7 linked regions of the Homo sapiens genome follow. The protein of the gene in region 7 purifies or fractionates together with the protein of the main gene of each other region. This does not show direct contact. Each region holds a gene or a part of one and is shown on either strand. Other genes may lie near its edges.

Evidence for each region.
Region 1: the proteins of PFDN1 (region 7) and ARHGEF7 purify together in Homo sapiens (co-immunoprecipitation; 2 studies listed by BioGRID and IntAct, with this or other methods). This does not show direct contact.
Region 2: the proteins of PFDN1 (region 7) and MLLT10 purify together in Homo sapiens (co-immunoprecipitation; 2 studies listed by BioGRID and IntAct, with this or other methods). This does not show direct contact.
Region 3: the proteins of PFDN1 (region 7) and TACC1 purify together in Homo sapiens (co-immunoprecipitation; 2 studies listed by BioGRID and IntAct, with this or other methods). This does not show direct contact.
Region 4: the proteins of PFDN1 (region 7) and SKIC3 purify together in Homo sapiens (affinity purification with mass spectrometry, with the first as the bait; one large-scale study listed by BioGRID). This does not show direct contact.
Region 5: the proteins of PFDN1 (region 7) and ARHGEF6 purify together in Homo sapiens (affinity purification with mass spectrometry; one large-scale study listed by BioGRID and IntAct). This does not show direct contact.
Region 6: the proteins of PFDN1 (region 7) and NLRP2 purify together in Homo sapiens (co-immunoprecipitation; 2 studies listed by BioGRID and IntAct, with this or other methods). This does not show direct contact.

The regions. Positions count from the first base shown.
Region 1 is NC_000013.11:111,300,310-111,303,270, reverse strand, and holds part of ARHGEF7 (rho guanine nucleotide exchange factor 7), read right to left. Parts: intron 2,524-2,961; coding exon 2,424-2,523; intron 1,794-2,423; coding exon 1,739-1,793; intron 281-1,738; coding exon 158-280; 3' UTR 1-157. UniProt on the Homo sapiens protein: Acts as a RAC1 guanine nucleotide exchange factor (GEF) and can induce membrane ruffling. Functions in cell migration, attachment and cell spreading. Promotes targeting of RAC1 to focal adhesions. May function as a positive regulator of apoptosis.
Region 2 is NC_000010.11:21,537,232-21,540,731, forward strand, and holds part of MLLT10 (protein AF-10), read left to right. Parts: intron 1-1,601; coding exon 1,602-1,681; intron 1,682-3,500. UniProt on the Homo sapiens protein: Probably involved in transcriptional regulation. In vitro or as fusion protein with KMT2A/MLL1 has transactivation activity. Binds to cruciform DNA.
Region 3 is NC_000008.11:38,793,736-38,797,235, reverse strand, and holds part of TACC1 (transforming acidic coiled-coil-containing protein 1), read right to left. Parts: intron 1-3,500. UniProt on the Homo sapiens protein: Involved in transcription regulation induced by nuclear receptors, including in T3 thyroid hormone and all-trans retinoic acid pathways. Might promote the nuclear localization of the receptors.
Region 4 is NC_000005.10:95,516,978-95,520,477, reverse strand, and holds part of SKIC3 (superkiller complex protein 3), read left to right. Parts: intron 1-3,155; coding exon 3,156-3,332; intron 3,333-3,417; coding exon 3,418-3,500. UniProt on the Homo sapiens protein: Component of the SKI complex, a multiprotein complex that assists the RNA-degrading exosome during the mRNA decay and quality-control pathways.
Region 5 is NC_000023.11:136,665,933-136,669,432, forward strand, and holds part of ARHGEF6 (rho guanine nucleotide exchange factor 6), read right to left. Parts: intron 2,238-3,500; coding exon 2,097-2,237; 3' UTR 1-2,096. UniProt on the Homo sapiens protein: Acts as a RAC1 guanine nucleotide exchange factor (GEF).
Region 6 is NC_000019.10:54,979,874-54,983,373, reverse strand, and holds part of NLRP2 (NACHT, LRR and PYD domains-containing protein 2), read right to left. Parts: intron 1,758-3,500; coding exon 1,692-1,757; intron 1,213-1,691; coding exon 1-1,212. UniProt on the Homo sapiens protein: Suppresses TNF- and CD40-induced NFKB1 activity at the level of the IKK complex, by inhibiting NFKBIA degradation induced by TNF. When associated with PYCARD, activates CASP1, leading to the secretion of mature pro-inflammatory cytokine IL1B.
Region 7 is NC_000005.10:140,296,602-140,300,101, forward strand, and holds part of PFDN1 (prefoldin subunit 1), read right to left. Parts: intron 1-3,500. UniProt on the Homo sapiens protein: Binds specifically to cytosolic chaperonin (c-CPN) and transfers target proteins to it. Binds to nascent polypeptide chain and promotes folding in an environment in which there are many competing pathways for nonnative proteins.

The sequences.
Region 1 (2,961 bases), on a different chromosome or scaffold from region 7:
CCATTCGCAGAATAAGCTCCAGCTTTTCTATATACAGAGAGCAAGGTGGCGCCCCACCCAGCCCTGCCCTGTGGTCCTGAGTGCACCCCGACTTGGGTCAGGGGTGCCCAGCTTCACCTCAGAACTGGTCTTCAACAGAAAGAACTGAGGACATCCCTTATAGATTGGTCTCATCCCAGGCAGGATCATTCATGTTCTTCAGGACTTTCCTCACCAGCTTCTCCAGGTCTTTGCGGGCTCTCTGTTCTTCCTCTAGAGATTTCTTCATCTTTTTGTTGTCCTGTAAATTAAGCAGACCACAGGGTGTTCACTATCTTTGGCATCGCGTAGGGCTTCCTTTCCCCAAATGTGTATCCTTGAGGAGCTAAGGCCTCGATTCATGAAATCCCACGTGAGCTGCCTATGGGCTCTGAGGTCGTGGGGATCCACGAAGGTCAAACACCTGGACAGGGTGGCAGCGGTGCTCCTGACTGTGCTGCTGTTCCCGGGATGGAAATGGTCCTAATGGCTCTTATTAAGTCCATGAATGAATCTCTATAGAACATACCGTAAGAAAATAGCTGGAAACTGCGGACGAGACAGCTCCTATCCAGCCTTTTTGTCCATTTATAACCACCTTCCAGAGTTACAGAAAGGACTGGAAGTAACAGCCACTGACAGGTGCAGGAGCAAGTGGGCGAGCACCTGCTCTGTGCAGCTGAACCCAGGCATGTCTCGGACGTAGGAGGCATGCACAAACAGATGCCTGCTGCCGGTAGGGGCAAAGCGTGAACATGGAAGCCTGCCAGCCAGGCAAAGGTGTACCTGGAAGACCTGCGGACACTGCTTAGAATGACAGCACATGTCCAGTTCCACACAGCAACCTGCTCTCAGCTCTCTATCCCAGACCACAACTCTTCTCAGGCTGTTCCTCGGCCAAAAGAACACCCCAACCTTCCCTCACCTAGCTGGGCAGAGGACCAAAGCCGCTCGTACTCACATTCCGTGCAATGAACACCCCAACCTTCCCTCGCCTAGCTGGGCAGAGGACCAAAGCTGCTCATACTCACATTCCGTGCAATACCCAGAACACCCTTGGTTAGTCGCCACTTCTGGCTCGCTAACCTGGCTTCGGGAGCCAAGGACCATGCAGTGGCAGAGGCTAATCTCAGGGGCGCCTCGCAGGATTTGTCACCAGACAGAACTTTCGATATTTTAAATTATTCTTCCAACAGAATTTGCGATGTTTTATGACATCAAAATCAGTATTGTTAAGAAAAAAAAAAGAGTTTAAACAAGTCACTTTAGAGACAACCAATTATTTTATCTGCTGGACTTCTCAAAGACATGACCTCCTTTTAGTTTTTTGCTTATGGACAATCAGCTTTTTATTTTTATTTGAGACGGAGTCTTGCTCTGTGGCTCAGACTGGAGTGCAGTGGCACAATCTCGGCTCACAGCAACCTCCGCCTCCTAGGTTCAAGCAATTCTCCTGCCTCAGCCTCCCAAGTAGCTGGGTTACAGGCACCTGCCGCTATGCCCAGCTAATTTTCGTATTTTCAGTAGAGATGGGTTTTTGCCATGTTGGTGAGGTTGGTCTTGAACTCCTGACCTCAGGTGATCTGTCCACCTCGGCCTTCTAAAGTGCTGGGATTATAGGTGTGAGCCACCGTACCCAGCCAGCTTATTTTTAATGTAATTTTCTTCTTTTCTCCCATTTGAAAAGAAAAAAAAGATTTAAAGATGGATTATGACGTACCTGTCTTAATTCTTGAACTTCATCCTTTAATGCATATACGGTATCCACAAGACTCCTGAAACAGGAAACAGAACACACACACATGAACAAGGTGAGGCATGGAGAGGACACACGAAAACTTACCAGGAGACACTACGATGCTGAGAGGAGGACACGGAGCTGCTCTGCCTTACCCATGTACTGTCTACATTCACAACTAAAAACTGCCAACCTCTGTGCATGGCAGGTTCAAGCCTAGTCAAGGGCAACTTCAGCCTATGAAGACATTTTAAAAGTGAAGCTCTGGCCAGGCACAGTGGCTCACACCTGTAATCCCAGCATTTTGGGAGGCCGAGGCGGGCAGATCACCTGAGGTCAGGAGTTTGAGACCAGCCTGGCCAACAGGGTGAAAACTCGTTTCTACTAAAAATACAAAAATTAGCCAGGCGTGGTGGCACAGGCCTGTAATCCCAGCTACTCGGGAGGCTGAGGCAGGAGAACCGCTTGAACCCGGAAGGTGGAGGTTGCAGTGAGCTGAGATCGCACCATTGCACTCCAGCCTGGGTGACAAGAGTGACACTCCGTCTCAAAAAAAAAAAAAGTGAAGCTTCTGAAGCCATACCCCCGCCCTCAGGGAGTTGTCTGGACTCTACTACCCCACCGCAGAGGTCAAACATCTGCTTTAGAATACCGGAAGACATCTTACTTTTCTTCTATCACTGTCTGACCATTACTTTTAGTTTCTTCCACTATAATTTTCTCTTCTTCTGGAAGCAAAACTTGTGGAGCAGATTCTTTGCGTGAACCTAGGATCATGAAAAAATAATAAATAAACCTCAGGCGAATACCATGGCAGAATGAAGAAAAACAACTTGACTATACCATGTCACTTAAATATTAAGTTCTAGCAATTATGCATTTAAAAACGTTCATCCAGGCAAGCTAGAGGAGGGCATCTTTTACCAGTTCTCTTCACCTCTGTCTACCGAGCCCAGGCCTCCTCATGACCAAAGCCAGAGAGGGAAGGAAACTGTAGCCCTTTTCAAATCGGAATTACGGATTGTTGAAACCCCAGCATTTTCAACAGGGAGGAAGTTAAAGGTTGTGACTGTACTGCTCTGGATATTCATCCCATTTTGAGCCATTATTCCAAGAGTTTCAGCAAAGACATATGAGACCAATCAGAACATATACAGTGAGTGTTTATACATCAAAGATCTGGCAATAAAAACATTTTACTCTAC
Region 2 (3,500 bases), on a different chromosome or scaffold from region 7:
TGAATTTATATTCTGCTGTGATTGTACAGTGGGTAGTACTCTGTTTTGTGAATTTATATTCTTTCTTTCTTTATATATTTTTTTGAGGCGGAGACTCCCTCTGTCGCCCAGGCTGGAATGCAGTGGGGCAATCTCGGCTCACTGCAGCCTCTACCTCCCGGGTTCATGTGATTCTCCTGCCTCAGCCTCCTGAGTAGCTGGGACTACAGGCACTACCACCACACCTGGCTAATTTCTTTTTTTCTTTTTTGAGATGGAGTTTTGCTCTTCTTGTCCAGGCTGGAGTGCAGTGGCGTGATCTCGGCTCAGTGAAACCTTCGCCACCCAAGTTCAAGTGATTCTCCTGCCTCAGCCTCCCAAGTAGCTGGGGTTACAGGCACCTGCCACCATGCCCAGCTAATTTTTAAAAAAATTTTTAGTAGAGATGGGGTTTCACCATCTTGGCCAGGCTGGTCTGGAACTCCTGACCTCAGGTGATCCTCCTGCCTCGGCCTGCCAAAGTGCTGGGATTACAGGCATGAGCCACCGCGTCCGACCTGAATTTATATTCTTTAAATGCTTTCCAATATTTAAGATATTTTCATATTTCTGCCTAGCAAGCTCATGCAGAAGTCTACTTGGTTATTAGTGTTTTTAGAGTTTTAGAAAATTTTCAGTTTTGAGCTAATTATTAACTTTAAAAACCAATTTTAAAACAAGACTGTGATTAGATATGTGATGTATAATTAAATCATTTGGAGCATTCACATCATTATGTATTTAGAAATAAACATACCTTTTTTTTTTTGAGATAGGGTCTCCCTCTGTTGCCCAGGCTGGAGCACAGTGGTGTGATTATGGCTCACTGCAGCCTTGACTTCCCAGGCTCAAGTCAGCCTCCTGAGTAGCTGGGACTGTAGGCACATGCCACCGTGCCCAGCTAATTTTTTTTTTTTTTTTTTTTTAAATTTGAGACGGAGTTTCACTCTTATTGCCCAGGCTGGAGTGCAATGGTGCGATCTTACCTCACTGCAACCTCTGCCTCCCAGGTTCAAGCGATTCTCCTGCCGCAGCCTCCTGAGTAGTAGGATTACAGGCATGTGCCACCACGCCTGGCTAATTTTGTATTTTTAGTAGGGACAGGGTTTCTTCATGTTGGTCAGGCTGGTCTTGAACTCCCAACCTCAGGTGATCCGCCTGTCTCAGCCTCCCAAAGTGCTGGGATTATAGGTGTGAGCCACTGCGCCTGGCCTAATTAAAAAAAATTTTTTTTTTTTGTGGAGATGGAGTCTCACTGTATTGCCTAGACTGTTCTGGAACTCCTGGGCTCCAGCAGCCCTCCCAACTCGACCTCCCAAAATGCTGGGATTACAGGCATGAACCATTGCACCCAGCCTTGATTTATTTAGATGAGGTAACACAAAAGAGTTGCATTTAAAATTTTTACTTGTTAATTAAGTAAGCTGTATATGTGATAAATAGGATGTGAACTGTTTTACTTCTCTGTAAAGAGGTAGTTTACTTGAATAGTGACAGGTGGATTAATAGGGCTTTGAAAGGGTATTTGATTTTTCCATAGTTCTTCGAATCTTAACATTTTAACACATTTCATTTTTCAACAGCTTGCTATGGCATTGTTCAAGTACCCACTGGACCGTGGTTTTGCAGGAAATGTGAATCTCAGGAGAGAGCAGCCAGAGTGGTAAGGACTATTTATCAAAAACATTAAACTTTAGTGAGTAGGTTAGGAAATTAGGAACTGCACTCCTGTTGTGGTTTGTGGGGTTGTCAGTCATTTCTTCAAATATCATAATGTAAGAGATAATTTAGGCCAAATATTGACTTGGAGTATTAAACAGATTTTGTAAAACTGAAAAACAAATGGAATCAAGTGAGTATATTTTGGATACTTTGAAAACAAAAATACATAGTCATATTTGGGCTTTGTTAACTAGTTACAGAATCAAGAAAGCTTGAAGAAGTTTGAAGGTTACACTGGCTAATCATAGTTAAAATATAATGGAAATAGAAACATAAGGAAGTTACATTGATAATTCTCTTAGGTTTTGTGTAATGGGAAAAAAACCCAATAATTTTAGTGACTATCATATTCCTTTTACTACATCTTTGGGTGTATAGTTTAACTTCGAACACTCACTGATTTCAGGCATTCAGTCCCTTTGGCAAACCAACATAAAAATCTTTTTTTTTTTTTTTTTTTTAACTTGGGTGGTTACCTTATTTCAGAACTTTTCTAAACCTCTTATAAGAATGAAGGAGGTGCCGGGTGCAGTGGTTCACACCTGTAATCCCAGCACTTTGGGAGGCCGAGGCGGGAGTATCTCGAGGTCAAAAGATGGAGACCACCCTGGCCAACATGGTGAAACCCCGTCTCTACTACAAATACAAAAATTAGCTGGGTGTGGCAAGCACCTGTAGTCCCAGCTACTTAGGAGGCTGAAGCAGGAGAATTACTTGAACCCGGGAGGTAGAGGTTGCAGTGAGCTGAGATGGTGCCATTGCACTCCAGCTTGGGCAATAAGAGTGAAACTCTGTCTCAAAAAAAAGAAAAACAAATTACAAACATTAGCTGGGCGTGGTGGCACGCCCTATAATCCCAGCTATTTGGGAGGCTGAGGCAGGAGAATGGCGTGAACCTGGGAGGCGGAGGTTGCAGTGAGCTGAGATCATGCCATTGCACTCCAACCTGGGTGACAGAGCAAGACTCTCAGGAAAGGAAAAAAAAAAACAAAAAGGAGGTAGGCCGGGTGCAGTGACTCACACCTGTAATCCCACCACTTTGGGAAGCCGAGGCAGGAGGATTGCTTGAGTCCAGGAGTTTGAAACCAGCCTGGTCAACTTAGTCTCTACAAAAGAAAAATTTTAAAAATTAGTTGGGGCTGGGCACAGTGGCTCATGCCTATAATTCCAGCACTTTGGTAGGCTGAGGTGGGCGGATCACTTGGGGTCAGGAGTTTGAGACCAGCCTGGCCGACATGGTGAAACCTATCTCTGCTAAAAATACAAAAAATTAACTGGATGTGGCAGCGCGTGCCTATAGTCTAGCTACTCTGGGGGCTAAGACGGGAGAATCGCTTGAATGAGGGAGCCAGAGGTTGCAGTGAGCCAAGATTGTGCCACTGCACTCCAGCCTGCACTCCAAACAGAGTGAGACTGTTTCAAAAAAAAAAAAAAATTAGTTGGGCGTGGTGGCTTGCACCTGTACTCCCAGCTACTCTGGAAGCTGAGACAGGAGGATTGCTTGAACCTGGGAGGTTGAGGCTGCAGTGAACCATGACTCCAGCCTGGGTGACAGAGTGAGAGACTGTCTCACAAAAAACACAGTGAGGGAGGTATGTTTATCCTTTGTATCCACAAGCATTTTTCCCATTTGGATTTCTGAAAATATCAGAAATAGATTTTATTTTCATTAGTTATGCAAACCTACCATTTAAAATATGATAGTTCCTTTTTAAAATCTTATTATATTTATTGATTTATTATTTATTCCAAGACATCTT
Region 3 (3,500 bases), on a different chromosome or scaffold from region 7:
TGGAAATAAGTGTGACTTTTGAGGCTAAGTCACAGAAGACTCTGCAGTTTCTATCTTGCTTGCTCTTGGATCACTCACTCTGGGGCAGCCAGCTGCCATGCTGTGAGGATACTCAAGCAACCCAGCAGTGGTCCACATGGTGAGGACTGCAGCCTCCCACCAACAGCCAGCACTCACAGCCCAGGCAAATGAGTAAGCCGCCTTAGGAGAGGATTCTTGAGCCTCAGTCAAGTCTTTAAACAACTGCAGTCCCAGCCGACATCTTGACAGCATTCTCAAAAGTGACCTGAGCCACACCACCCAGCTCCCAAATTTCCCAACTACAAAGACTATGTGAGATGTTCGTTGTTTTCAGTTTTGGAGTAATTTGTTATGCAGCCAGAGATCACCAACAAAGGCCTCTTAAAAACTCCTCTATCTACCATAAAACAGGCGCAGAGCCCCTGGCAGCCGCACACACCTCCACACACCTGCCTCTTCTCAACCATGCATGACTCAGGTGGAGACAGAATGCAAAGGCTAGTACTGAATTTGTCTACTCCTTCTTTATTTTTCACTGATGAGCTGAAGCTAGGCATTGAGGAAGCAAAATGTTTTCAATCCCACTGCACTTATCCAGTGATGATTTTTGCTTGACTATTAATTTATATCTAAATCATGCTGCAAGCTTCCAAACTTCTGATGTTTCAACTTCCTAAAATACATTTCATACTTCAGAATAATATGTGCCAAGTTCACACATGTGGAAGATGTATTTTTTGATTTTTTAAACTACTATCACATGACAGGATACTTAAGACGATGCTTTCCCCCATCACACACCCTGCTCTGGCAACATTTTAAGACCCTTTATTTCCTCTGATATGTCTTCTCTTCAGATAGTGAACAACAGAGAGGGATTCACAAATTTCCTGGAGAGAAAAGCTGTATAATATGTTCCAAAGAGCTCTGGATCTGCAATCTTAAAAGCTGAATTCAAAACCCAGGTCCACTACTAGCAGTAAAGGCTCTGGCCTCAATTTCCCAATCTGTGAAATGGAAATCACTTGTGTCCTATCTCGCAGAATCATGGTCATAAAAATCAAACAAGATGCTGCAAACAAAGATTACTTGTTCCCAACACATCTAATAAATAAATACGGCTGAAACAGATAGCTGGTGATCTGCTAGGTGGGAATATTGTAATGGGAAAGCTGGAGATCAATCATTTATTGTCATATTTCCAGCTATGATATAAGAAAGAGGGTCCTCGACTGGCTAGGAGAGTATCTGCATCTGCCAAACTGTCAAGATACATTTTTCATTTGTGAATTAATAAAATACTCCATGCCATTATTATTATTCCCTTGTGAGTCTGGCCATCATCAATCTAAACCCTGGGGATCTAATCATGTTTGTTTGAACTCATAAAATTAGGTCATGTACATGCAAAGGTGAGGGTGAGATCTTGAACTCACAAGTAGCAAAGCCTTTCTAAGCCCAGATTTAATAGTCACCAGGCAATTTAGCAACCTTGGTTATGAAATCTCCACTGAGAGGGTTGTTTTGGGTGGATAAACCATTATCTCCCATCGCTACTCTGGATTTAGGAGAGTGTGACAAAATGGTTTATACCCTCCAAGATTTCCTCTGGGCAGTATAACTGGTAACCTGAAAAAGACACTGCAACTGCTCTTTCATTTAAATGTTTAAATGGCTTTAGGCCACATCCATTTTGTAGGTGGGACATTACATGGCAGCAATATAATTTTAGAAGGACTGCCGGCTCCCAAAACACATACACAGGTAGAAAGTGTCTCTGCCACCCGCAAGTACCAAAGTAAGTTCTACTGCTTTATTCGATGCTTGGGTAAGCCCAAAATGGGGGAGTGCAAGGTCTTGATTTTGTCACTCATCTTAAAAGAAAAATTGTGATTTGATAGTTACTAAAATCTTTCCTTTCTGCAGGTAGACTTTGCTTCCCTGCCCTGGAATTTTTTATTCAGACACTGTTGCTCCTCTGTGGTTCTGCACTCTCACAAGTTTCTGCTGGAAAAACTACACTTTTTTCCCCAGGAAGACACTCCCTTGGGTAAGGCACCATATAGAAGCAGGTGCTTCCTAGGGGCACATTTACATTGTGATAGAGCAACAACAACAAAAAAACACATGACTCTGATCTCATTTATTAGCTGGTTGGAATCTCCAACTTCAGAGCTAAAAATACATGAAAAAACAAAGTAGCTATATCATGCTAAGATTTTCAAGCTTTAAATACCTTAACATGGAATTATACAGTACAAAAAAATCAAACTGTGGAAGAGGCAATCACAGCAAAACATTAAAAATTTAAAATTAAATTAAAAGCATTAGGCTGCGATGCTGTTGAAGGAGCCACATGGGTTGGACTGCTGGACTAGGTAATATGAAAGGTCCTAATTAGTCCCATTATTTCTAGGAAACTCTAATAAAGCATTCCCTTGTTGGAGCAGGGAAAGGATGTTAAACTAAATCCTTAGGAGGATATACTTGTAGACTTGAATGGAACACTTCAATATGTACCTAATGAAAATTTTTCACATAGTATCTGATTAAACATATAACTCAAAGCTTTAGAATAAAAAATCAAAGCCTCTGATTTTAACAAGGTTTCCATGCTGTGTTTTCTATAGCACGCACACACACACACACACAAACAAACACACACACACGTGCAGTCTAAAACATTCTAAAAATACACCATATCAACCTTTTAAGAGATCTGCACAGTCAACTTACAAATTCTCATACACCCGAAGTTACATTAAAGACATTTAATGGGTTGGGTGAGGCTGGCTCATGCCTGTAACCCCAACACTTTGGGAGGCCAAGGTGGGAGGATCACTTGAGCCCAGGAGTTCGAGACCAGCCTGGGCAACACAGTGAAACCCCATCACTATTTTTTTAAAAAAAATTTAAGAAAATAAAATGTTAAAAAAAATTTAATGGGCAAAAGTTAAAAGTCTATGTGTTTGTACTTCTATTAAATGATTCCAATATTCTCCCCATTCTTCCCTAATTTCCTTTTTAAATAATTTTTATTCCTCCTTAGATCTTTGAGTCAATTGAAAATCAAGTTCATTGCAGACCAATTACATCACTTCCCCTTTGCAAATATGACAAATAGCCAGGCCACATCAGGCTCTCCCCTGGGCCTTCCCTGAACATGCAGGCCTAGACTAATGGCACCTCACGCCCACAGTTCATTTGTTCAGCAGGTATAACCTTGCACCTTTTCATTCTTAAAGCCATTTTCCCAAATTACTTAAACTCTGTATTTTTACTGAAATTGTAATAAGTATAGATGTAGGTTGACATTTTTTTTCTGTACAAGATAGTAAATATGTTAGACTTTTGCCAGACATTTGGTCTCTGTTCCAAGTACTCAACCCAGCTATTGTAGAGCAAAAGCAGCCATAGACAATACATGAATGAATGAGTATGGCTGTATTCCAATAACTTTATTTATGGGGATGACAGTG
Region 4 (3,500 bases), about 45 Mb from region 7:
AGGAAGGAAGGAGCAGTCTGCTAGTGGAACAGCAGCTCTGACACCATGTGTTAGTGTTCTCTTTCAGTAGGCCTGGAAATGAGTATCTTTAATTGGAACCGATTGGGAAATAGGGCTTCAGGTGCTCAATATGCTGTACATTCAGTGGTAAGAGCCAATTGTAGGATTATTAGTAGGTCTTGAAGGTAAGGGGAAATGACAATCTGATTGCTCCTGAGGAGAAACTGTGAAGGAAAAAAGTGATGTGTCTAATAACAAGAAAGGAATCAGAAAATTTTGAGTAGATTTGGCATTTTATAGAACTGTGAATTCATTGGTTAGGTCAGAAAAAGTGTTATCTGTGGTAGAAGACTTCCAAAAGTCCACAAGTTAGATGTACATTTGAATTTTTTGTAACTCTTAAACATCTTTCTTCTACTTCCCCTCTTTTCCTGCTTGGTTTCTCCTCTGTTTTGTATTTATTGGTTGTTCCAGAATTGCTTTTCATATGAACCAAATATGAAATGAAAACCTAACCCTTTTTTATCTCACTGAATTTTATTGCTACTTTTCAAGTCTCACATAATGTAGTTCTTTCTAAAGGGAAAGTTACTGTGTAAAGGGCATGCTTTATTTGAACTGCTATTTAAGAGTAAATGTGAACCTTTGGGTGACAGTACCTTAGCTATAAATACTGCCTCTCTGAGCCTAGGAAATGTTATTCTGGATAACATGTAACATAACCCATTAGAAGGTGGCATATAAAACAATTATAATCTCCAAATGTATATTTACTTCCAGACTTACAAGGCGTTAATACTATCACAATTATTGTGTAAGGGTGATATAAGTTACTTCAATTTATAGATATTTTATTTTTATTGAACTCAAAATAAGAATTTAGGCTCTTAAAATCGCCTGTTTCACTTTTTTCCTCTCTTCTCATTTTTTGCTGTCAATTTTAGAAATTTTGCTAAGATATTTAGGCAAAGGAACTCCAAATCATATTGCCCTTCTTTCAGATTCTCAGTGGGCTTTTAGTTATGACCACAATAATTAATATTATTTCTTAGGAAGACATTGGAAAATTATTTTTGGCTGGACTCCATGAGTAGAAAAGGCTATGAAAAATGTTCCATCTGCTTTTCCATCTGCCAGTAACATAGCAGCTTGTGATAGCTGATTATTGAGACTTGGCTTAAATGAAATTGCCATGTGTTATTTATAAGATCTCGAGAAGAGAAAAATGAAGAAAAATGTATAGCTGAAGTTTTTCTCATTCTAAAAGGAATTGCCCTCTGTCACCATAATTAATATTTCTCTTTGCTTTTTGAGCTTGTTCATTCAGTCTGCTCTTGTTTCGGTAAATGTAGTTCTTCAGATTTTTATGTTTAGATTTTTGTTTTTTTTTTTTGGTCTCAGGGTATTAATGTTCAACATCACCAATCATCAGGAAAATGCAAATCAAAACCACAGTAAGGTATCATGTCACCCCAGTTAGGATGTCTGTTATTCAAAAGACAAAAAATAAAGGCTGGCAAGGATGTGGAGAAGAGAGAACTCTTATATGGTTTATGGGAATGCAAACTAGTGTAGCCACTGTGGAGAACAGTATGGAGTTTTCTCAAAAAACTGCAAATAGAACTACCGTATGATCCAGCAACCCCACCACTGGGAACTTATCCAAAGGAAAGAAAATCATTATATCAAAGAGACATCTGTACCCTCATGTTTATTGCAGCACTATTCACAATAGTCGAGATATGGAATCAACCTAGATATTCAACAACAGATGAATGGATAAAGAAAATGTGGTATTTATATGCAATGGAATACTATTCAGCCATAAAAAAGAATGAAATGCTATCATTTAAGGCAATTTGGATAGAACTGGAGGACATTATGTTAAGTGAAATAAGCCAGGAACAGAAAGTTAACCACCATATGTGCTTACTCATATGTGGAAGCTAAAAAAAAAATTGATCTCATAGAAGTAAAAAGTAGAACAGAGGATACTAGAAGCTGGGAAGGGTAGGGGGAAAGGATATATGGGTAATACTTGTTAAAGGACACAAAATTACGCTAGATAGGAGGAATAAGTTCTAGTGTTCTGTAGCATTGTAGGATGACTGTAGTTAACAATAATATATAGTTTCAAATAGCTAGAAGGAGGATAGTGAACATTCCTAACACAAAGAAATTATAAATGTTTGAGATGATTAATATGCTAATTACCCTGATCTGATCACAATACATTATATGTATCAAAACATCTCTGTACCTCATCAATATATATAGTTATGCCAATTAAAAAATAAAATTTACAAAAATCTTTCAGATCTTACCAAATATATTTGGTATATTTTATTTGAGGTGTCTTCATCAATTTTTTGCTGCCATAACAGAATACCATGGACTGGTTAATTTACAAAGAACAGAAGTTTATTTGACTTGGTTCTGGAGGCTGATAAGTCCAGGAGCATGGTGCTGGCATCTTGGTGAGGGTCATCCTATGGCAGAAGGGCAGAATGCAAGAGAAAAAAAATGGGACTGAACCTACCCTTTTATCAGGAGCTGACTCCTGTGACAACTAACCCATTCCTACAATAACAGTATTAATCCATTTAGGGAGGCAGAGCCCTCATGACATCATCACCTCTTAAAGGTCCTACTTCTCAACATTGTTGTCCTGGAGATTGAGTTCCCAACTCATGAGCTTTGTGGGGATGTAGTCAAAACTACACAGCATGAGAGAAGATCTAAAAGCAAAAACCTGAGTTTACAACTGTCAGTTGTAAGAGAGTTACAAACTTTACTGCCTTGGTCATTGCTTAAACACAAAAAGCATAGTTTTAACATTTTAATATTAAAAGGAAATTGGTCCTGGAAAACTTATTTATTTATTTGCGTGATTGCTGCTACTTCTAATAAAAATGGTGAAGAGTAACAAAAAAAAGTGTCCACAAAATTTCTGGCACTTAAAGTAATCCCTTCCTCCTTCCCTTTCTCCTTTTCTTCTTCCCTTCCTATTAGGGAGGTGATATGATATGATTCAGTTAGGAGGAGACTAGTAAAGTACTTAATGTACAGTTTTTCTGTTTTAAGTAATAATCAGGGAGATAAACTTCATGCTTTTTATAAATAATTTGTAAGAATCACAATGTTTCTTTTTTTAGTGCTCTACAGCATCGAGCTGATGTGTCCTGCCTCTGGAAGCTAGCTGGGGATGCTTGTACCTGTCTGTATGCTGTCGCACCATCTAAAGTGAATGTTCATGTTTTAGGAGTCCTTCTAGGTCAGAAAGAAGGAAAACAAGTATTAAAGAAAAATGAGCTCCTCCACCTTGGAGGAAGGTAATTTGCAAAGATTGCCAGTTAATAACATTTGAATTGAATTAAGGCATTGTAACAAAAAACATTCACTTTTATATTCCCGTAGGTGTTATGGTCGTGCATTAAAACTGATGTCTACATCTAATACATGGTGTGACCTTGGAATTAATTATTATCGCCAAGCACAAC
Region 5 (3,500 bases), on a different chromosome or scaffold from region 7:
CAGCAATCAACTAAAGTATTCCGTAATCACAAAAATGTTTCCTATAGATGCAGTTTGCACATTTATTGCAAGCCATTGACTAACCACAGAATGGGCAGATGTGAAGATCTGTGTTGATGTTGTTGGTGGTGGTGGTAGTACTGATGTTTTTAATTTTTAAGTGAAGGATGTTATATCTAAATGGCTGTGCTAAAAAACAGAACAACAGCCATTCCTAGAAATTTCTTTACTCTTCAGCTTCCAAACACGGCTGTGTGTGGTTGGCTGATGTTGGACTGCAAAAATAGTCCATTTCCTGTGGATGGTGTAATTTCTGCTGTGCAGCAAGCAGACAACAGCCCTGTACCATGTAGCTATGGGACCTTGAGACTCTCAGTACCAAAAATAAAAAGGGCTCCTCAGCAAGCTGGGGGTTTCAAACTTCAAGTTTTGTTTTTTCAGAGACAGAGGTGTCTCTCTGTTACCTAGGTTGGAGTGCAGTGGTGTCATCACAGCTCACTGCAGCCTTGACCTCCTGGGCTCAAATGATCCTCCCACCTCAGCCTCCTGAGTAGCTGGGACCACAGGTGTGGGCCACCATGCCTGGCTTCAAGTTTGGTTTTTAAACAATATTTGCAAAACCCACATTTATAGGCATCCATCAAATATATTATAAAGGCAATTCTGATCAGCCCTTTGGCCTCAATTTCCAGTGACCTTCCCCATCTGGCCAAATTTCTCTTGTCTTTTGGGGAGGGAGGGGTGAGTGGCACTGAGCCTTAGGCCAACTTTCAATGGCGCTGAATTTGGATGTGTGCTGTTCTGTGACTGTCTTCTAAACCTGGTTTCTCACAGTTCTAGTTTCTGGGATAAAGTGGATGATGTGATTCAATGAGCAACTTGAGTTAATCAGTCCTGAATAATCCAGCACACAGCTACTAGAGGGGCCCTTTTGTTCTGGATGTACAAGTTGGACCAGAAGCATATTTCTGCAAATACTGCTTAGAGTCCCACCCAAAGAGGCCAATTAATATTACAACTTCTCACAGCATATATGAGAGAGTAATAAAGTGAATGAAAGCTGTCTAGTAGGGCACAATATCTTCTTAATGCAGATTGTTTTGAAGGATAAAACATCACAGTTTGAATATGCAACGTACATAAAGTAACTCCTCACAGTCTAACTACATTTTTTTAAAAAGTAAGCAAAGCACATACATACTAGTTTACACACCACTTGGTAAGGTTGGCTAAAAGTACTGGGGAAATAGAAAACTTACACACTAGGCAGAATGAGGGAAAGAAACCTATCATGCAATGGGAAAAGGCGGTCAACTCTGCTACTAAAAGGGAGGATTGTCCAGTAGAATTTGCTGATGGATTTGGTGTTGGTGTGGGTGACCAGAGCTTCTGCCCCCCTGAGTTACAATTTACATGACACAAAAGGAATAAGGGTACTACAGTTTTCTTGGTCTTATAGACAACATAGGGCAGTAATTTTAAAACCTGTGATTGAGGGGAGGCATGTGATGGTCTAAGGAAGGGCAGCTGGATCATTGGGCAGATGTGTTTGTCTTTCATCCTACTCAAGCCATAGTCTGGAAGATTTGCCTTCGGTAAATTAAGTACTAAGAGGCTTGCAGGTACAGGAAAGCCCTGGGGAAAAGTTGGGTTCACATTTAATAAGCCTTGGCCAGCTGCTTTGCAAGGGCAGCCAGCCCAAAGAATGTGACCTGAGGGCAATGGCTGTTGCAGAGGCACTGTGAACTGAAGGCAATCTGAAGACCTTTTAAGTAACTGGCCTGCATTCCCTTTCTCTTTCTTACTGAATGGAAAAGACTCTGAGGCCATCTCTACCACCACTTCCTGCTTTTTCACCTGTTGAAAAAAAAAATGAACAACCAACCAATAACCAAACAACAGCAAATGCCCAAGCGCGCACGTGCACGCACACACATATGCACACAGCGGGGAGAGAAAGAGAAGAGAGAGGGAGAGAGAGAGAGAGACTCAAACACAAAACAAAAGCCAAAGAAGTGAGCAAACTGAGTCAAATCATTCAGCGGGACATTTCAAGATGCCCTGAAGGCACACTCCACCCAGTGGCACAGTGATGGTTATGGAAGAATTGAGGTCTTGCTACTGGACTCGCCTCGAATACACTCATCTGTTTGCTTCAAAAGCCTCCGCACCAGCTTTTCTAGGTCCCTTCTTGATTTCAGTTCTTCTTCCAGGCATTGCTTCATTCTTTTATTTTCCTATGATGGGGAAAGATTTGTTGATTATCAAACAGAGGGGGGCCCTTCCAAGGGCTCCTCCTGCTCATCCTCGGGGCAGCTTTCATCACTGACTCTCTTTCTTTCCTCGACCTTCCCTCCCTCAGCATCTATGACAAAGCAGCCTGTCGATTCTCCTGCCTGTCTCTGGGAAACCTTTTGGATTCTTCTTCCCTGCCCTGATCCTCTTCTAATTTAACTTGCTTTTCACTTAGTGTCACTTCTGTTTCAACCCAAGTGTCTATTAAGGGGACTCCCAAATATCTCTGGTACTGACCTTGTCTCCTGAGAATCGGGTCCACAATCTCAACTGTCAGCCTGGTATTTCTTCTTCTTCTTCTTCTTCTTATTATTATTATTATTATTATTATTTTATTTAAGAGATGGGGTCTCACTCTATTGCCAGGCTGGAGTGCAGTGTAATCATGGCTCACTGCAGCCTCAAACTCCCGGGCTTAAGTGATCCTCTCACTTACCTGAGATTACCTGGCAGCAGCTTGGTATTTCCACCTAGATATGTCACAAGCACCTTAAACTCATCAGGTCCTAAAGTGAACTCAGTATCTCTCTCAACACCCCAAACTTCTCCTCCTCCTGTGATTACTGATCTCCATGAAGGGGCACCACCATATGCAACCAGACACCCTGGGAAGAAGCTTCATCTTTAATCCCTGGCTCTTTCTTAATCTCAAAATCATATTATCCTCGTCCATAGGTTCAAACTCTGCAGTATGCCATCCTTTACATTCGTTTCCTCCTCCCCAGCCTCATTACCCTGCCTCAGTTCAGGACTCTGACAGGTTTCACCCTGAGTTTTGTAAGAACCTCCTAAGTGGTCTTCTAGTCCCTGGTCTCTCTCCCCTCGCATCCATCCTTCACTCTGTCACCAGATACAGTCAGTCCTCACACACAAGGCACAGTGTGCATCACGGAGCACTAGGCCACATCGGCAGAAAAGCCCACAAACCATGATGAATGGTTCTCTTTACACTTACACACTCATGAATGACTAGTCTTTTCTTAAAGTCTGTTTATGGATGTCAGAGAACAGGAAAGTTGTAACTAACTTTGGGACTCTATTGTGAACTACTACATAGAAATACAAGCAAGCCTCGGAAATTTAAATTCAAGGCTTACATGATAAAATCAACAAAACCTACCTTGATGACACAAGGAAAACAAAAATCCCCCCTCGCTACCTTGCTCCTAGGCCTTCCCTGAAAGCATGAGCAGCGTGAGGCAAGA
Region 6 (3,500 bases), on a different chromosome or scaffold from region 7:
CAAAGGAGTAGTAGCCTGCTTGGATCAGGTCGGGGTTCCTGAGTCTTTCTACTCCGGAAAGCAGCTTCTGTACGTCCCCAATGTCCCAGGTGTGGCCGTCCCTATCCTCTTCCTCCTCCTTCTCCAGGGTGTAGAACAGGGCAGTGAGAAACTGCTGGAAGCTGAGGTGGATGAAGGAGTAGCAGCCTTTGGAGACTCTGTCCTGGCGGAGGATGTCTCCGTCCAGGAACAGACGGAGGTCGGACTCCTGCACCCCGAGCCTTTCCAGATCCTCTCGGTGAAGCACGGACGTCTGCGCCCACAGGCCCTGCGCGGCCAGGAGGCTCAGCGTCCGCAGCGCGCCCCGCAGCTGTGCGCCCTGCGGGAACCGGCTGCAGAGGAAACGCAGGAACAGCCCCGTGCGGGTGAGGCAGGTGGGGACCGGGTCCTCCCCCTTCTCCATCTGCAGCTTCAGAGTCGTGCACACGATCCAGCACACCGCGGGGGCCGAGCCCAGCTGGAACAGGGCCGCGTTGCTCCTCATTAGCTCAAAGGCACGCATGGCTTGGTCCTCGTCTCCAAAGTGTCTCAGGAAATAGGCCCTCCTGTCCTCCTCCAGGAAGCCCTCCACCCTTATGTAGATCGGCTCCTCCGCCAGGATCCGGAGGTCCCTCAGGGCCCTGGGCCGCGTGGTGACCAGCAGGGCGGCCTTGGGTAACATCACCCTGTTCAGCAAACTCCCCAGGAGGACGGGCACCGGCTTCTTCTTCTCCCAGTCCCCGCAGATGTCCTCGATCAGCGCCCCAGGTGCGGCTCCCAGCTCATCAAAGCCGTCAATCACGAACAAGATTTTCCGTGCTTGGGCTAGGATGTGTGGAATGTCATCCTGCAATTCAGGCCAGTCCCTGAAGACCAGCTCTGCAAAACTGCACGGGCCCAGGCGGCTGAGCTCCCTGCAGCTGAGGTAGAACGCATATTTGAATTTGTGGATGAGGTTGTCCTCTGCCCAGTCTAGCATTAGTTTCTGGGCCAGCGTGGTTTTCCCAAGGCCTGCAGGACCATACAGCACCACCGTGTATGAGAAGGGCCCGGGAAGCACCCTGGGGTTGCTGAATGGGATCAGCATCTTGTATCTCTCAGCCATAACCTGGACCTCTTTGCTATCTCCAGGCCAGCTCTTCCACATCTCCCGGAACTTCGTCTTCAATATATACCTGCACCTATTGTCTTTGTCTTTATCATTGGTGAGGAGGGAAGGGAGAGAGGATGCAATCAGTTACCCATAGGGAAAACCAAAATAACAAAATGCCTTGTGTTGGCCGGGCACAGTGGCTCATGCCTGTAATCCCAGCCCTTTGGGAGGTCGAGGCAGGCAGATCACCTGACATTGGGAGTTCAACACCAGCCTGACCAACATGAAGAAACCTTGTCTCTACTAAAAATAAAAAATTAGCCAGTCATGGTGGCGCATGCCTGTAATCCCAGCTACTCGGGAGGCTGAGGCAGGAGAATTGCTTGAACCTGGGAGGCGGAGGTTGCAGTGAGTCGAGATCACGCCACGGCACTCCAGCCTGGGCAACAAGAGCAAAACTCCGTCTCGATACATACATACATAAATAAATGCTTTGTGTTACATAGGAAAGTTAAGAGGACTTCAAGTTTATAAAGAGAAATCTGATCCCAAGCTCCCTGCAGGAAGATATGGTACAGACCTGGCTTTTTTCCTTTAAAGACTTCTTTACCCAGGCAGATGACATTTCCTTTCGTTTCTGTAAACGCTACAAAATACAAACTCATGTGAGATTGACACAAAATCAGGTGTATTTCCTGTGGAGTCCCAATTAGAGAAAAGGAGGCAGGCTGATGGGGCGGGGGGGAGGGGGGGCACGGGATCAGATAAAGCAAATAAGCTACAAATGTGTTTTCCGGCCAGGTGTGGTGGCTCATGCCTATAATCCCAGAACTTTGGGAGGCTGAGGTGGGGTGGATCACTTGAGCTCAGGAGTTCGAGACCAGCCTGGCCAACACAGAAACCCCATCTCTACTAAAAATGCAAAAATTAGCCAGGCGTGGTGGCGCATGCCTGTAATCTCAGCTACTTGGGAGGCCAAGAGGCTCGAGAATTGCTTGAACCTGGGAGATGGAGGTTGTAGTAAGAGATCGCACTACTGCACTCCACCCTGGGCAACAGAGCAAGACTCCATCTCAATAAAATAAATAAATAAGCTTTCCTCCATGGTTCAGGGCATACAAACAAGAGGAAACAGGTCAGCTATAGGTCTGTTTGAGACAGTCTCACTCTGTTGCCCAGGCTGGAGTGCAGTGGCGCAATCTCAGCTCACTGCAACCTCCGCCTCCCGGGTTCAAGCGATTCTCCTGCCTCAGCTTCCCAAGTAACTGGAATTACAGGCATGTGCCACTGCGTCTAGGCTAATTTTTGTATTTTTAGTAGAGATGGGGTTTCGCCATGTTGGCCAGGCCAGTCTAAAACTGCTGACCTCAGATGATCCACCCACCTCAGCCTCCCAAAGTGCTGGGATTGCAGGCATGAACCACTGCACTGGGCCAGGTCTGCTTTTATGGTCCAGGAGATACGGCCCAAGATGTTTGGCCTTCCTGGCCAGATCACACACAGAGCTCACAAACTCCCTGTTTGCCATGAAACGCCTCAGTTTATCAAACACTTCTGCTGAAAGAAGACCGCAAGTTAAACCCCCTGTTGACATTATCAATCAGCCCAAGCCCTATTCTATAAAATCTGCAGGAAGCTTTGGTCTCCTGGCAGTGAGCTACTCATGACAACCTGCCCGCTGGGGTCTCTCTGCCAATGTCTTTTCCTACTTTCTCCAATAAATCTGCCTTCCTTTACCTACGATTGTCTTCATAAATTTCTTTACCCGCGGCTGGGCGCGGTGGCTCACGCCTGTAATCCCAGCACTTTGGGAGGCCAAGGCGGGTGGATCATAAGGTCAGGAGATCGAGACCATCCTGGCTAACACGGTGAAACCCTGTCTCTACTACAAATACAAAAAATTAGCCGGGCGTGTGGCGGGCGCCTGTAGTCCCAGCTACTGGGGAGGCTGAGGCAGAATGGCGTGAACCCGGGAGATGGAGCTTGCAGTGAGCCGAGATTGCGCCACTGCACTCCAGCTTGGGTGACAGAGCAAGACTGTCTCAAAAAAAAAAACAAAACAAAACATTTCTTTACCTGCCATGCCACCAGGCACTATTCACCCACATTTCCTGCTGAAGCATGATGATAGAGCAGGCACCACAGTACCCCAAGTCGCACCGAAATTCTTTGTCAAGATTGTGTGCTAGGCTGGGCACAGTGGCTCACGCCTGTCATCCCAGCACTTTGGGAGGCTGAGGCGGACGGATCACGAGGTTAGGAGATCCAGACCATCCTGACTAACACGGTGAAACCCTGTCTCTACTAAAATACAAAAAATTAGCTGGGCGTGGTGGCACACACCTGTACTCCCAGCTATTTGGGAGGCTGAGGCAGGAGAATCGCTTGA
Region 7 (3,500 bases):
AGGACAATGTTATTCGCCAAAGACTGAGCAAAAGCAAAAAAGCACAAAAACATAACATGTGTGAGGAAACCTATGTGGCAAGGGTAGGATAACAATTTCTAGTACATGTGCTACTACTCTTCTACCCTCACTGTGTAACAGACATCACTAATCAATTAAAGCATGTTTAAAACCCATTTGACATCTCAAAATTCTTCTCAACATATAACACAAACTAGTAGAAGGAGGTAGGTCCATGAGATGAAATATACATGCTATCCTAACCCTGGAAAAAGAAAGTGGTGGGACTTGAGGCAAAGGGTAAATTAAGAACAGATTATGAATAACCATGAATGCAAGGCCAACAAGTTTAGATTTTATCCTGTGGACAACAGAGGATGAACAAAGGACTTTAGGAAGAATATTGATGTGATTAATTCTGAAAGATATGTGAAGAATGGATTTGGACAGACAGAATGAAGGCAGGAAGAAAGAACAGTTAAGATGCTATCATAAAAGTCCAGGCAAGAAGCAATGAGACCTGAATTTCAGCAATGGGAAAATCTACTGCATGTTCTAAAAGAAAAATGAAGTTTTGGATTTTATTATAACCATTTTATTACGGTTTTAAAATGAAAATTTGGGAAAAAGTAATATTCTAGTCAGAATTCCCAAATAACACTCAAAATGGAAAAGAAAAAACAAAGTAAGGTAAAGACTAGAATTAAAGAAGTGAATCACAATGATACCCAAAATTACTCGACTATAAATTCAGAAATAGATATCTCAGGTTTAGCATCAAGAAAGAGAACATCCTCATGACCAGACTAATACTCAGCAAGTCTTTTCTTCCTCTCAGGGCACTAATACGCTAGCCAAACAACAAACGCTATTCACCTTACATGCCCCTACAATACAGGGTCAAACTCATACTCCCGGTGAGATGCAGACAGCACTAAAGTCAAATTTAAAACAGAAGTCTGAAATCATGTAGAAGCTCAACTTTATCCAAACATTTAAAACTCCACACTTCTTTTAAGAAACGTAATTTATATGAAATAAACCTTCTGGAAATAATACCATTCTACTATTTATTAATTCATATCCTAGCCTTTAAACTCCAAAATTCTTGGTATGGAAAACAACTTATCTGTAGCACTTTGGAAAATATGTACAAAAAACAACTCTCCTAACACTTCTGCAGAACGTTTAATAAATGAAACTATTCTAATTAAAAATTAAAACTTCACTGTAGCTCAAAAGCCCAAAGGGAGTAAAACGTTTTTTCTATTTTGAAAAAGGAATTCTTTAGCTATTGCAAACAAAGGCTAGCGCAGTGATGTGAAATCCAAGTACAACATGTTAATAAAGCTGGCATTACTGTTTTAAGACCTAAGGATATTCACATTAAGGATAAAATTATCCTGTAGTGAATGCCAACAATGCATTTCATACTACACAGACACATATTCAAGGGTTCTACTTTGTTCCAATTCTTTTGTGTCCCAGTAACAAACTCTCAAATTGGGATCCTTATCCTCTTAAACTAAAATGAAATATATGAGCTTGGACATAAAATTTACTTGTGCTACATTATTCATTCTGAGAAAGCAAATCAGATGAACAATTTAACATAATCTAATTCTGAACCATAAAGATATGGATTAGTCAGTGATGAGCAGGTCTACTTCTCATGATGTCATTCCAAAGTCATTATTAAATTTTACACATGTTATTCTTTCTTCAAATCAATCACAAAACAAGTCATCCCGAGACTGAGGTCAAATTCCATTCTAACTAAAAGATCTCCAAATCTGAAGTAATGGTCTACTTACTAAGTAATACTCAAAGACCAAATTCCAGAAAAACCCTCCTCCTGTACCTCCCCCCAACTTAAAAAAAAAAAAAATCAGTCTTCTCCTTTTAGCTCACTGTAATGGAATGTGACCTGTACTTAAGGGCTTTTCCATTCCTTTTTTTCTGCTTACAGAATATGAAGCAGACCTATTCTCTCTCACAAGGGCAATATGCTTTTAAAAGAAAAAAAAGTGAAATGTACGAAGTTAATAATGTATTAATTAGAACAAACAAAAGTAAAATAATTTACTAGATTTCTCACATGTGAGTTGTCCTCCTATTAGAACAATGCATGACACTTAGAATGAGTGTATTTTTTACTTTTTTTTTTTTTGAGGCAGAGTTTCACTCTTGTTGCCCAGGCTGGAGTGTAATGGCGCAATCTCGGCTCACTGCAACCTCCACCTCCTGGGTTCGAGCAGTTCTCCTGCCTCAGTCTCGTAACTGGGATTACAGGTGTGCGCCACCATGCCTCGCTAATTTTTGTATTTTTAGTAGAGATGGGGTTTCACCATGTTGGCCAGGCTGGTCTCAAACCCCTAACCTCAGGGGATCCACCCACCTTGGCCTCCTGCAGTGCTGAGATTACAGGCATGAGCCACTATGCCTGGCCAGAATGAGTGTATTTAAATGACAATTGAATTTTTATTTTTATTTTACAACACTGATCAGACATCTGAAAGATTTATGATTTGTATCACTCCTAATAAATTAAGCAGGGAAGAGGAGGTTAAAACTGCACCTACTTAAATAAATCTTCTTCACATACAATATAATATTGCTATAAACATTTTCCATGACAAATCATTTTTATTACTGAACTTACACTTAAGTACCTAATCATAGACAGAACAGGAAAGTAAGCACTTAAGAAATGTACTTTGAGGCCAGGGGCGGTGGCTCACGCCTGTAATCCCAGCACTGTGGGAGGCCAAGGCGGGCGGATCAAGAGGAGAGATTGAGACCATCCTGGCCAACACGGTAAAACCCCATTTCTACTAAAAATACAAAAATTAGCCGGGCATGGTAGCATGCGCCTGTAGTCCCAGCTACTCAGGAGGCTGAGGCAGAATTGTTTGAACCCAAGAGGCGGAGGTTGCAGTGAGCCAGAATCACACCACTGCACTCTAGCCTGGCAACAGAGCGAGACTCTGTCTCAAAAAAAAAAAAAAAATGTACTTTAAAGTCTAAACTTAAACACTTTAATTAATCTACCTGAAGTTCAGCTCCTCATTTTAAAAAAAGAAAGCATTTAATTAGATAATCTTTAAAGTTATTTCTAAGATACTTTAACCTGCCGGGTGTGGTGACTCATATCTGTAATCCAGCACTTTGGGAGGCTGAGGTGGGCGGATCAGGAGGTCAGGAGTTCCAGACCATCCTGGCAAATATGGTAAAACCCCGTCTCTACTAAAAACACAAAAATTAGCAGGGCGTGGTGGCAAGCGCCCGTAATCCCAGTCACTCAGGAGGCTGAAGCAGGGGAATCGCTTGAACCCAGGAGACGGAGATTGCAGTGAGCCAAGATCGGGCCATTGCACTCCAGCCTGGGCGATATAGCGAAAACTCCGTCTCAAAAAGAAAAAGATACTTACTTTAAACCAAAGTTTCTTTTGTTTTGAGACAGAGTCTAGCTCTGCTGCCCAGGCTGGAGTGCAGTGGCA